Regions from separate parts of the Homo sapiens genome. Here region 2 is linked to region 1. The links come from fine-mapping of genetic effects on gene expression. Tissue or cell type: whole blood. Region 1 holds a variant in brackets; the other region holds the start of a gene. All regions are shown on one strand. Distances are from middle to middle.

Region 1 (6,335 bases):
TGTTGTTTTCTGTTTGATTGTTTTTATTTCAATGGTCAAGTCCCTCTTCTGTAGGGCTGCTGAGGTTTGCCAGAGGTTCGCTTCAAGCACTATTCATCTGGTTCACTCCTGTGCCTGGAGATGTCACTTGAGGAGGTTGGAGAACAGCAGAGATGAGTGCCTGCTTCTTCTTTTGGGATCTCTGACCTCGAGAGGCACCTACCTGATCTCAGTAGGAATGCTCATGTATAGGGTGTCTGACAATCCCTGTTTAAGAGTCTCACCCAGTTGAGTGGCACAGGGAGCAGGACCTGTTTAGCGAAGCACTTTGACCATCCCTTGGTGAAAGGTGTGTTTTGCTGGGGGGGAAACCCACTTGTCTGGGCTGCCCAGATTCCTCAGAACTAGCAGGAGGAAAGGTTAAGTCTGCTGGTCTGCAGAGACTGTGGCCACCCCTCACCCTGGGGGCTCAGGCCCAGGGAGATCAGGCTTCTGTCCCTGAGCCCCTGGCTGGAGTTGTTGGAGTTCCTGCAGGGAGACCCCACCCAGTGAGGAGGGATGGGTCAGGTTCAGGCCTGAAGAGGCATTCTGGCTGCAGTCTGCCACAGCCGGTGTGTTGGGCTGTGGGGGATACCTCTTGGGACGAAGCTATCCAGACTCCCTGGCTCCATCAGGGGAAAAGCATATCCTGGAGCTATAGAGATGGCTGCTGCCCCATACCCGCCCTGGGAGCTTAATGTGTTAGGCAGCTATCAGTCTCAGTGTTGGCTGGTGCCTCTCCCCTAAGGACCTCAGGCAGCTTAGACATTAGGCAGCGGCAGCTGTGGTGCTGGTTGCCCCTCCCCTGGGAGTCTTAAGCAGATTCTAGTTGAGTGGCTGTTGAGAATCTGCATGGCTTCCCGGTGGCATGGGTTCATGAGTGGGATCCTCCAATCCTTGGGTTGCACAGTTCCATGGAAAAAGCACGGTTTCCTAGGCTGGGTAGCACACTCACCACCTCCCTTGACTGGGGTGTGGGGGCTCCCCTGCCCCGTGTGGCTCTTAGGTGGGCCACCACAGCACACTGCTCTTCCTTCCTCTCCATGGGTCATACCAGCTGCCTAGTCAGTTCTTGTTTTTTGTTGTTGTTGTTGTTTGTTTGTTTTTTGTTTTGTTTTGTTTTGAGACACAGTTTCACTCTTGTTGCCCAAGCTGGAGTGCAATGGCATGATCTTGGCTCACTGCACCCTTCACCTCCCAAATGATTCTCCTGCCTCAGCCTCCTGAGTATGGGATTACAAGCGTCCGCCACCACACCAAGCCGTTTTTTGTATTTTTAGTAGAGACAAGGTTTCACCACGTTGGCCAGACTGGTCTCCAGCTCCTGACCTCAGGTGATCCGTCCCCCTCAGCCTCCCAAATTGCTGGGATTACAGGTGTGAGTCACCTCACCTGGCCCTAGTCAGTTTTGATGAAGACCCTGCATACCTCAGTTGCCAGTGCAGGATTTGGAGGCAGTTATGGTTCTTTTTGATGACAGCCTCCAATCACTGCTGCTTCTAGTCAGCCATTTTGGCCCCACCCCCTCAAGAAAATAATCAAGTCTTTGTATTATTCACTCCATCTTTCTATTTCAATGCCCAGTATAGTACCTAGTTAACAAATTTATTCAACACACATTTCTTGAGGAAAATAGGCGAGAACCTCAATTAGTAAAGGTTGTATATAAACTCATTTAAGTCATATAACAACCACTGAGAAGAGAGTGCTTTTTACATATTTGTACTTAAGTCATTTAGAATAAGAAGCAATGTATATTTTTTCTAAATGCTTTTACAATGAAGATAATCAGAATAATATTAAACATAGAGTAAAAATGTAATTAACCAAGTTACGAAAGTAGCTTCACTAATCATTAGACTAAGTAAACTTCTTAGTACAAGTGCTTAATTCATGGCAGTAAATTTGCCCTGCACATTTTTTTCTGCCCCTCTGTGATCATTGGTGCTTCTACTAAGTAGTACCTACCTTCAATTCAAATAATTCAAGTAGTAATTCATTTCTAGCTCTTGAAGAGTTCTCTTACAGGTGATGTAGTCATGTAAAGATCATTTGGCCCAAGAAACTGAAAATTGAGGTGGGAAATATGGCAAAAAGCAATGAGATTAACAGAGTTACATAATAATACCAGCAATAACACAAACATTACGAATAGACAATTAAAATTTCGGGTACATTAATGGGTTTATGGCTGACACTTCTATAATAAAGACAGATTAGCAAGAAAAAGGCATAACAAATTTATTTCATCAAAATGTTATGTGACCTAGAAGCTTTCTAAAATGAAGACCCAGGGACAACTATTTTTATGCTTAGATTTGATGAAGAATAGACAATTTTGTAGAAGTATGATTGGAACAAAAAGAAAAGGGTATGACCTAATGGTAATAAACTGGGGATGAGGGGTACCAAGCAAGGCCTGTTTGTTCAGATTCTTCTTGGCCTTTCTATATAATATTCCTTCCCTCATGGTTTAAAGCATGGCACTTGTCACAGTGTTTAAAAGACAGGAGGCGGAAGTTGAGAGCAATCTTTCTGCTTCTGCAAGTTTCTCAGTTTCCTTCAGCTTAAAATACATAGTGTGCCAATGTGCCATATTTGGGGGCAGCATTTTTTGCTACTCCAAAATCAAAACCTTCAAAGAGAAGCCTTAACTAAACCAGAGTGTTACTTCACTTAAATTCTCCCTTGCCCTGCCATACAAAGATGAATAAGATATTCTTGATCCTCTAAGAACTCACAGTCCAGTGGCAAACATAAGCATACATTTCAATTGTTACAAAAAATAGTAGTAGGAGAAGTACAATTGTTGATTCACATTGGAAAAGCAGAGAGGTGAGAGGAGACCATTATAGTAGAGAGGTGAGGCAAGGAGAAGAGGATAAGCAAAGTTGGAAAGTTCAAAATAGGTAAAGCTAGGGGAGATCAAGGAGATCGTGAATATTCCTGTACCTATAGCAGAA[A/C]GTTTATGAAGAGTAGTTGACAGTGCAATTGCTTGAGAAACATCAACTTGATTAAAAAGAGCCTCTAAGTCTCAGTAGACAGTTGTGCAGTAAAGACCATTAGGATTCCTACCAGAAAGATATATTGCATTTTACACATGTATTTTACCATAAAACTTTCCTTTCAAGAAATATCTCAGAAAATAATTCTTAGGGCACACTTTGGACAAAACTTTCTCAAAGAATTGCAAAAATAGAAATTGTTTTATGGTGAAGGTTTTAAAGTTTTAAACCAAATTTGGTAAAGTAGGAGCTTTGTTGACTCAAAATATTTTAACTTACAGCTAGTCAATTTAAATTTTATTAATTGCCAAGGAACATTTTTAAGAACATAAAACCATGACCCATATAAATATAAAATGAGCACATGCCAAAGATATCATTTAACTCATTAAAGAATAAATCAGTTATGAGAATTCAAAGAACATTTATCTATCTATATATTATATCTATGTCTATGTCTATGTCTACTTCTATGTCTATATTGATATTGGCAATCAAAAATGCTGAACTAAATTCACAGATAGGTGCAAAACTAGTCAATATTCACTGGGCAATAATCAAACGTAACTTAGCTGAACACAATTATTTATATCTCTATAAAGAAGAATCATTTGTATTGCTCACAGTTTTTCTTAATTTAGAGTTGTAAAATTGTTCACGGAGATTGAAAGGCACAGATAGTTCTGAAGGGTGTACTAGCCAGGACTCCTAGTAATTTTATTTTACCCTTTCAAAGTCTTTCACACATTTTTTCTCTGATATTAGATTGAAACTGGTCAGCCACAGTTTTATCCTAGTGCTATTTCAAATGGCCAAATTATGTACATACATATTTAAGGCTTGTATAGAAACATTTAGAGATCTTCAGAACTGCTTATTTTATTTAAATTTTTAAACAACATTGTTTTTAAAAGCCTGTGCTAGAAAGAAGTTTTAAATAAAAAAAAGCATTTGCCTTTTCCTACTTATAAGCAATTTAAGCTATTTACTGATGTGTTTTATGTAATACTTTATTACGTATGAAAAATACTATTTATTTCCCCCTCCATATTTAAAATCATTTTCTTTAGTGTACACTTTGTGGTGTGTGTGTGTGTGTGTGTGTGTGTGTGTCTGTGTGTGCTTTGGAAATATTTCCTATAACTTATTTTAATTTAAAAAAGTATTTTGGAAAAGAAAATGAAAGCTAGTATGTATTGAAATACAAATCTAGTGCAAATCAATCTAATTTAATCAGCTTAGTTTTTTCACAGTAAAATGAATATCTGGCCATAATTAATTTTTAAAGAATACAGACTCAAACAAGCATCCTAATATATGTTAACTGAATTATCTTCTCTCATAAGCTACTGCAAAAGTATTAACCTGCAGAGCACATAAGAATAGGGCAATGTTTTGGTTATGCGAGTAGTATGTTCCAGTAGGCATCTTTGAGTTTTACTCTAAATATTTTCAAATAAAGATTAGGTATCAATATACAGAAAGAAGATGTGATCAAAAAGTGAAATCTAACTGGAGACTTCTGAAATTTTTCAATTCTGATACTTTTTCCGCTGATGATTCTTTATTCTCTTGACCTAAAAGCATTCTGATAAATTTCCATAACTAGTGAAGTCATTATTGAGAATGTAGCTCCCTAATCCTGCTATGTGGAATGAGAAAGAGTAAAAGAAAAAAGGGGAACCATAAAGCTCTAATTTAGAAAGTTAATAAAATACCCACAGGAGTATTTAAGCATTAATTAAAGATAGACTTTGAAATGAAAGAATCTATGTATCAGATAAAAGCTAGTCAGGGGTTTTTCTAAGATATTCATGTCTGTACTCTGAGAAAGTGATGATACTGTTCAAGCCAGGAGAGCAGGGTGTCCATTTTGAAGTAGGGTATCACTTAGCATGGAAGAGCTAGAAAATAAAGTGGTTTTTCAATTACATCATCTTCAACTTGTCCTTATTTGGTCATCAATTGACCTCCCATACTACCATCTTCATTTACTGTGGTCTTTACATCATTTTGACTTATGAAGCTTTTTCTCTCCATCCAATTTCTGCCATAATCATTGTTAACTTCCAAATTCATAAGAACAGCCCTCCCAATTACCTAATATCAACATTTTTGGACACCAACAATCTTTATCCTACCGGACGTTAATAAACTGATTTCCATAGACACATACAAAGATCCTCTTATCACTTGGAACTGCCCCACCTCTTAAATCTTCAACTCCTATATATTTATTTATAACTAAAATCTATCTTTTCAACTCCTTTCTTCCTCAACTCCTTTCTTCCTTTACTTCCACCACACATATCCTCCAAATATATGGTGACACCCATCCATCAAATAACCTCCTTTATACACTTTTATTTTCATTTCTAGTGTAGGCTCCGAGGTTCTTTAATTCAATTATTATTTTGTCCATTCTCTCCAGTGTCTCTAAAGTTCTTTCATTTCATTGCCTTGATTATGCTAAAATGTTCCTTACAACCCTTGGAACATTTCAACTATCTATCTTTATTTCCTGTATTTGGATAAAAATGTCTAGAAGAAATCAATGCCCCACAGATTTATGCCAATATTAATTTTATGGTCTCCAACTTGAGCTGCTCCCACAGTTGCTTGCTCTTTCTCCTGTTACCTACAAGAGCCATTTAAAATCTTCAACAGTACAGCTTTCTATTCAAACACCACTTATGGCCTCTCCTTCTCAACAAGATAATTTATCTATTTCCCAACGAAATTTTAGGACTTCAAGCTTTAATTCATTCAACTTCCTATATCCATATTTATAAAATTCTATATATTTTATATTTACCACAGTTTCCTTTTCTGCTGTCTCATGATTAGGTTTCCATTTTTCTGTAAAAAGCTAATAAACTCTCCTCTTATAATTCTTATAATCTTTAAAATCAAGTAATGTAAGGCTGCTGTGTTAGTCAGAATTATGGCTACCAAGAAGATAGATACCATGCCCTCCTTGATTCCCAGGACTATGAATATGATGAGATAGCACACCTGTGAATGTGTTGGTAAAGGGACTTTAAATATGTAATTAAGAATATTGCTTAATTAACCTTAACATAAGGAAATTATTCTGGATTATCCAGATGCGCCCAATGTATCACATGAGCCTTTCAAATACAGAGACAAAAGAGAACATCAGATTCAAAGTATAAGAAGGGTTTTACATGATATTGCTGACTTAAAAATAGAGGGAAGCACAGGGAAAGAGTGATGATAAAATTAATTCTGACAACAACCACTGATCTGGATGAGGACCCAAGACCTAAATGAGAACCATTGCTCTGGCTG
Region 2 (6,335 bases), 160 kb before region 1:
AGAAAGAAAAAAGTCTCTAAAGTATTAAAGGTGGAAGACTAAAAAGAAAATGTAAATTAGTAAAGTATAACATTACCAGAGTGAATTAATAAGATGGTAAAAGAATTCCATTTATCTCCATATAGCTTTTCCAAACATTGAAGGGCACAAAGTGTTGATCCTCCATTTCCTTAAAAACAAAGTTAAAAAAGCACAATTTATTTAATAGAAACCTACTAAAACTTTGTCATGACAGTAAATTTAGGTGTTATATAACCTTAAGGATTTGCCTTTCAGGAATAAGTAAATAGATGGACATCAAAGGTATTGGCAATAGAACAAAATTAAAAACATCTCATAGCAAACAACCAATCAATAAATTAGCAATGAAACCCAGACAACAACCCTCAGTAATAAATGATGAGGTAATATTCTCCCCAAAATAGTAATTATAAGAAAGAAGAATCAATTACACAATCTGTAACACTAGAAGACTGATAAATATAAACATTCATACAGAGTTACAAATCACAAAGCCCATTTAAATAATTCTCCCAAATGACACAATCAAAAACACAAGTTAGAGTTCCTTTCGAAAAAAGATTTTTAGAACTTGGATTCCCAAAAAAAAATCTTAAATATAACTACCACACTAGTTATCTTGGGCCAGTTACTTAACTCTTGAGTACCTCAGATTCTCATCTATGGAAATAATATCACGCCTGTAATCCCAGCACTTTGGGAGGCCGAGGCAGGTGGATCACGAGGTCAGGAGATACAGACCGTCCTGGCTAACATGGTGAAACCCCGTCTCTACTAAAAAATACAAAAACAAAATTAGCCAGGCTGGTGGCAGTCACCTGTAGTCCCAGCTACTCGGGAGGCTGAGGCAGGAGAATGGCCTGAACCTGGGAGGCGGAGCTTGGAGTGAGCTAAGATCGCACCACTGCACTCCAGCCTGGGCAACAGAGCAAGACTCCTTCTCAAAAAAAAAAAAAAAAAAAAAAAAAGAAATAATAACAGTACTGACCTCATAGTTGTAAGGATTAAAATAATGTTGGCTAATTAGAATAATGCTAATGTCATATTAATGTCATATACAGATATCTTATCTCTGGTATCAGGGGGCTTCAACTTTAAGTATCACATAGAAAAGAGCATTCAGAAAAACAGCATTTATTTCTATTTGCAATGGACGGTCAAAGGGCAAAGTTGACCTAAACTAGGGTTTTCAAATATATGTATTATATTTAAGCCATGTGACAGTGTTCTTTTGCATTCTGCATTATGTCCCTAAGAGGTCAAGAGTATTTTTTCCCACTAATTGCTTTCTTCATGTAAATTGCTGGAGGAACTCTGGAGTGGAGAGGACCTCAAGGGTTCTACTGATAAGGTCCAAAGGAGTATTCCTATCTGAATAGTGTGAATTTCATTAAAACTAATAAAATTTTCTTTTAAGTAACATTCTGGAAGTTTTTCAAGGTAAGTCATAATGGGTAAGAACAGTTGCTATTCCTTTTATCTTTCTAAAAAAAGTCAATTTATGTTCAAATTTTAAAGTTTGTAAAGCTGTGGGTAGAGATATGCAGCTTATACACTGTAAGTCACAGAAACCTTTTCTTCAATGATTATTCTGCTTAGGACCTATATTATAAAACTGACCATAAAGCGCGTACCAATTTTGGCTCCAGCAGGATCCACAAAAACGTGATATTGAACTCCAAGGGGTAACTCCTTTCTTTTCAGCTTTTCTGACAGCTGTTGGTTGTAAGCAAGTTCCTGTTTTTCATCAGCCGCTGTTATTGCAACTATGTCCCAGAATTCTCCACGTGCTACAAGTTTGCCTATTTGGAAAAAGCAAGGAAATGAAAACAAAAATTATCAGAATTTTCTAGTTGCCACAGGTTTGCCTATTGAGAAAGATGATAAAGAAGGTAATATCCATTATCATCTTCCAAAATGTATCTTTGGCTTTTGAAAGTTAGGGAATAATTAGTGGTGCATTAATACGATTCAAAATAGTTATAATGAAGACTGTTCACAAGTTCCTTTTTTTTCTTTTAGATCACTCCCTCCTTTTATGGTTTGCAATCCAATTTAATTATAAATTCTGAATGACATAATGTTTCTTGATTAAGAGAGCGACTTTTAACTTGCCAAAGACTATTGCCTCAATTCTTCAATAAGAAGAGGAGATAAACATAAACAAATCTCCAGCTTTGCAAATCAATTCTTATGTATCACGGACACTTGGTGTTAGGTGACTAAGAAAGACACAACCCAAAGATCCCTTCCCTCAATGTTGCTGTTTATAAATGTGGGTACTTTATTTTCTATTACTTTAAGATGAACCATGCAAACTTACATAGGCTGTTAGAATATAACATAAAATTCTGGATAACAGAAGGTCCCAACTCTCTGATGACATCTTTAAAAGACAGTGTGCACTTTTAGTAGACAGTTGGAATCTCTTTATTGATAAACAAAATGATTTAGCATTTTAATTAGTTAACAAACAGAACTTGTCAGCTAGAATCTAATAGTCCTGAAAGTTTTACTGTTATCCAAGAATTAGTCCCAGTATTTTTTAAGCAGTCACTGCAACACAAATATAATCACTTTTATTAGACAGGTGTACAGGGATTAAGTGTCATAGCCAATTTTTTGATAACAAATTTCTTCCTTTTAATTTTTAATCCATAATTCCTCCATGTTCTGTTACTCCCTCAACAAACGGTTACATTACAGAAGTAGATGAACGTAATGTAAAGCGTGAAGTAGATAGGGGGCTGGCATCTACTCATAAAGTTCAAAATACTGTGCTTCGTATCTTTTAGATTTATTTAAAGCAACTTTTATTAATGAGCTAATCAATGCATAACTTCACTAGTAAGATTTTCTTCTTCTTCCTCCGCCCTCATTTTTAATATCTATACTACTAAGAATAAAGTAAGCAACAAGCATGTCAAGCAGGGACAGTGAAAAGAATAAAAAACTCAAAAGGATTATTAGCTAGCTACTCCTGGGGAGCGTCATAGGCCTACAGATGAGAAGTAAACGGGAAGTGACAGTCCAGCAAACCTCCTGGCACGTAAAAGCACCCTCCCTCTGCATTGCCCAGGAGAACTCCGGTGCCTTCTCTGGTACCTCTTAGCTCGGAAAACCTCCGCAATTTTCGCTGGGTGGCTTCTCGCAGCGATACTTCCGGAGGGTCCCTAGCAGCTGCCATAGCCCCACCTTCCCTGAGACCGCGCCGCACAGCACGCATGCGCCCTGGGGTGCGCCTCCGCCCGGTTGTTTCTGACCCGCCCCCTCCGTGCGTCGCCCACGTAACCACGCCCCCGGAGCGCCTTGGCTGGCGCCCGGAAAACCATGATGTGGAGAACTTGGATGTTGTCTTGTTTCTCTAGCAACGGTCTCAGGAGCAGATGGCCGCCCAGCGATTTGTCTGACTGTGTTGGGGCTGGGCCACTTGTCTCCAACTCATAAGGGCTTGCAGCCCAGTTGACCCGGTGAGTGGTTCAGTTTGGGTGACAAAATTGTTAGAACCGACCCGCTAAGGATAAGGCGAAACTACATTCTAGCTTCCCAGCTTTCACATCAAAGGCGGTTCGTCCTAACTGGTGGTTTGTTTCAGCCTGGAGCAGTTCCCCAGGATAGCCTGATAGAAGATCTCCGCCATCTCTCCTTTCCCCCGCCACCCCGGGCCATCTGCCCCCAACCCTGGGTCATGATACATACACAGTCTGAATATTTAAAATCTCTGCTCTTTCTAGGAACCTTAAGTTTGTGGTTCCTAGAGAGTGAGCCACCCCACCCCTCTGTTTTTTCTTAGTAGGCTACACACGACAGCCTCTCAAATAGTGTCTTTGAAAGTTGTATAAAATTCAGTCCGCAACCAGGCTCCAAATATTTTTGGTATTTTGGTTTCTTCTCTGGCATTCTTTTGTATATGCAGATTAATCTAGAATGTTCAATAACACTCTTAGGAATAAGTCAGCCTTTTTAGGTGTTTTTTTGGGTAGCTATATAAAGGTGTTCCTGTTATAGAACACGAGGTTTCTTGGTTTTACAGACCACTTCATCTTTACACAGAAGAAAACTGAATCAGAGAATAGTGAGTTAGTCAAGGTATCACAATTAGTAAGTAATAAAAGATTTAAGAAATATATTTCAATCCCAAACCCAGAACTTGTGGTATTTCACCATACCGTTTGATTTTTTGAGACGATTTCTCTGTATCAACGTCTTCATTAGGTACGTAGACATTCAGGGCACCATAAACTCTTGTCATAAATTTACTTAGTTTTTCTTCTCAGACTTGTTATACAATCGTGTTCTAATAGTGGAAACATTTGGATAAAATGGCAGATTAGATTACTCTTTCATAGTTTTACATTTAAAACTTCATTAATTAAAAAAACAGTATCTTATTGAAGAACATTTAGAAAATACAGAGACTTGAGTGAAAGTAACCAAAGGAGAAAGTAGCGAGAGAAGGTCAGAGAGAGAACAAAGGGCCATAGGAAGAATTTTGGTTTTTACTCTTGAGGGAAACAAAGCCATTGCAGGGTTTTGAAGTGACTTGGCTTATGTTTAAAGAGATCACTCGGAGATAGGAGAATAGATTATAATGGGGGATGAGGCAATGATAGAAGCAGGGAGACTTCTTTGGAGGTTACTGCAATATTGCAGGTGAGAGCTGGTGAAGGCTTGACCAGGATGGTAGCAGTGGGAATGGTGAGAAGTTGGTCAGATTCTGGATATATTTTTAAGACAAAAACAATAAAATGTGCTGATGGAATTAATGGGTGTGGACTGTAAGAGAAAAAGAGGAGTCAAAATGACTGCCTTGGGATGGATTGGCCATCAATTAAGATGGGTAAGTTTCCGACTGAGGAAGGTTTTTGGGGTAATAGGGTCCAGAATTTGATTTTGGACATGTGGAATAAAGAGACATGTGTATGCAGTGAATATGTAATGGAAGTTTGTGTGTGTATGTGTCTGTATGCATTATACATACGAGTCTAGAATTCAGGAGAGAGGTCTGGGCTAGAGATACAATTTTGGGAATTGTCAGCAAGAAGATAGAATTAATTTTAACTGTGGAACTAAGTGAGGTCCCAAGGGAGTGAAGGTCAGCAGAGCCTATATGTTTGGGGTCTGTATATTCTAATAAGGTGAAATAAAGAAGGAAGAAGTAACCAAATAAAAAATCCAGTGGTAACAATTGTGAGGAGACAAACAGAGTGATGTGTTAGATTCTATCATACAGAATATTAAATAGAGTATTTATTGGATCTAGGACGGTATCATACAGAATATTAGAGTATTTCTTGGATCTGGGAAGGATGGCCATAGAAATTGGATATTATTTTTTCTCAATATGACTATATCATGCAATCAAAATTTGCTGGAAATAAATATACCATATTATCAGCTATGGCTTCTGTTTTCTTTCTTTTCTCAAATTTTCATTAATATTAATTTTTAGTAAAAAAAAAATTAAAAAATACTATATATATGAGTAGGAGTAAATTTCCGTGGCAGTTGATTGTTGGAGGCAAAAAAAGTTTAGGGATTTTATTTAAGTTCATATTCACTATAATAAAACAGTGTGATATGACTGTTTAACATCTTAAGCTACCAGAGTATTATTATACTAGAGAATTCGCCACAGAGTTTTTCCAGGTATTTATCAGAATGTCATTTTACCAGAGTAAAATATATCAATCCAGCCAAGCTGTAAGCCCATTAATTCTGCACAAATCAAACACACAGGAAATAATCTGTTTAGTTTTGGATTCCACATTTTTAAAAAGATGTTGAACATACTAGACTATAATAAATTGAAAAATTATATTCTGTGGAGGCATTTGGGCTTTTTATTTCCAGGAGGAGAGTAGAGAGTATCTGAAGAGCTGCCATAAGGAAGAATGAGATAGATTTTTTAAAGCAACTTTATTGAGGTACAGGTTTAGAACATTTTCATCCCCCCATTAAAATGTCTTCCAACCCATTTACAGTTAATGCCAGTTACACTGTTTTTTTATTACTACAGGCATATAACTATGACTGTTGTGTGGAAATTATAGAGAAGAATGTTTTAATTTTCCCCCCTTCTTTATATGAGGAAGTTGAAGCCAAATGAATAGGGTCCTGGATTATATACTGTGGAGCTCGTAGTGCATGCTGTGGTCAGGCCAAGCTAGGGCTGTACTTGTTTCCAGTCCTTGTGCTTCATGGCTCTGTTTAACCACTGTTTCCTCCTGTTACCCTTCCTGACATGCAACGAAAGCAAAAATTGTCTTTTTGCAGTTTGTTTTATTTCGATTTATTTACTCAGCTAGCCTGTT

Evidence for each region. PIP is the estimated chance that this variant, and not a neighbour inherited with it, causes the effect.
Region 2: it holds the start of FPGT, and the variant in region 1 is fine-mapped to the expression of FPGT in whole blood (INTERVAL, PIP 0.96).

What each region holds. Positions count from the first base shown.
Region 1 is chr1:74,032,437-74,038,771 of GRCh38, reverse strand. All of the region lies in intron 7 of LRRIQ3 (leucine rich repeats and IQ motif containing 3), which reads left to right. Among named protein-coding and RNA genes, the nearest start is that of LRRIQ3, 160 kb to the left of the region's middle. The variant A/C (reference allele first, on the strand shown) is at 2,982.
Region 2 is chr1:74,195,152-74,201,486 of GRCh38, reverse strand. FPGT (fucose-1-phosphate guanylyltransferase) reads right to left here and starts at 3,245. Exons shown (of 4, transcript NM_003838.5): 1 at 3,127-3,245; 2 at 1,656-1,823; 3 at 77-169. The coding sequence starts at 3,208. It overlaps LRRIQ3 (leucine rich repeats and IQ motif containing 3), which reads left to right and starts at 3,311. Exons shown (of 8, transcript NM_001105659.2): 1 at 3,311-3,491. It overlaps FPGT-TNNI3K (FPGT-TNNI3K readthrough), which reads right to left and starts at 3,245. Exons shown (of 27, transcript NM_001112808.3): 1 at 3,127-3,245; 2 at 1,656-1,823; 3 at 77-169. The coding sequence starts at 3,208. RefSeq lists a silencer at 3,308-3,407.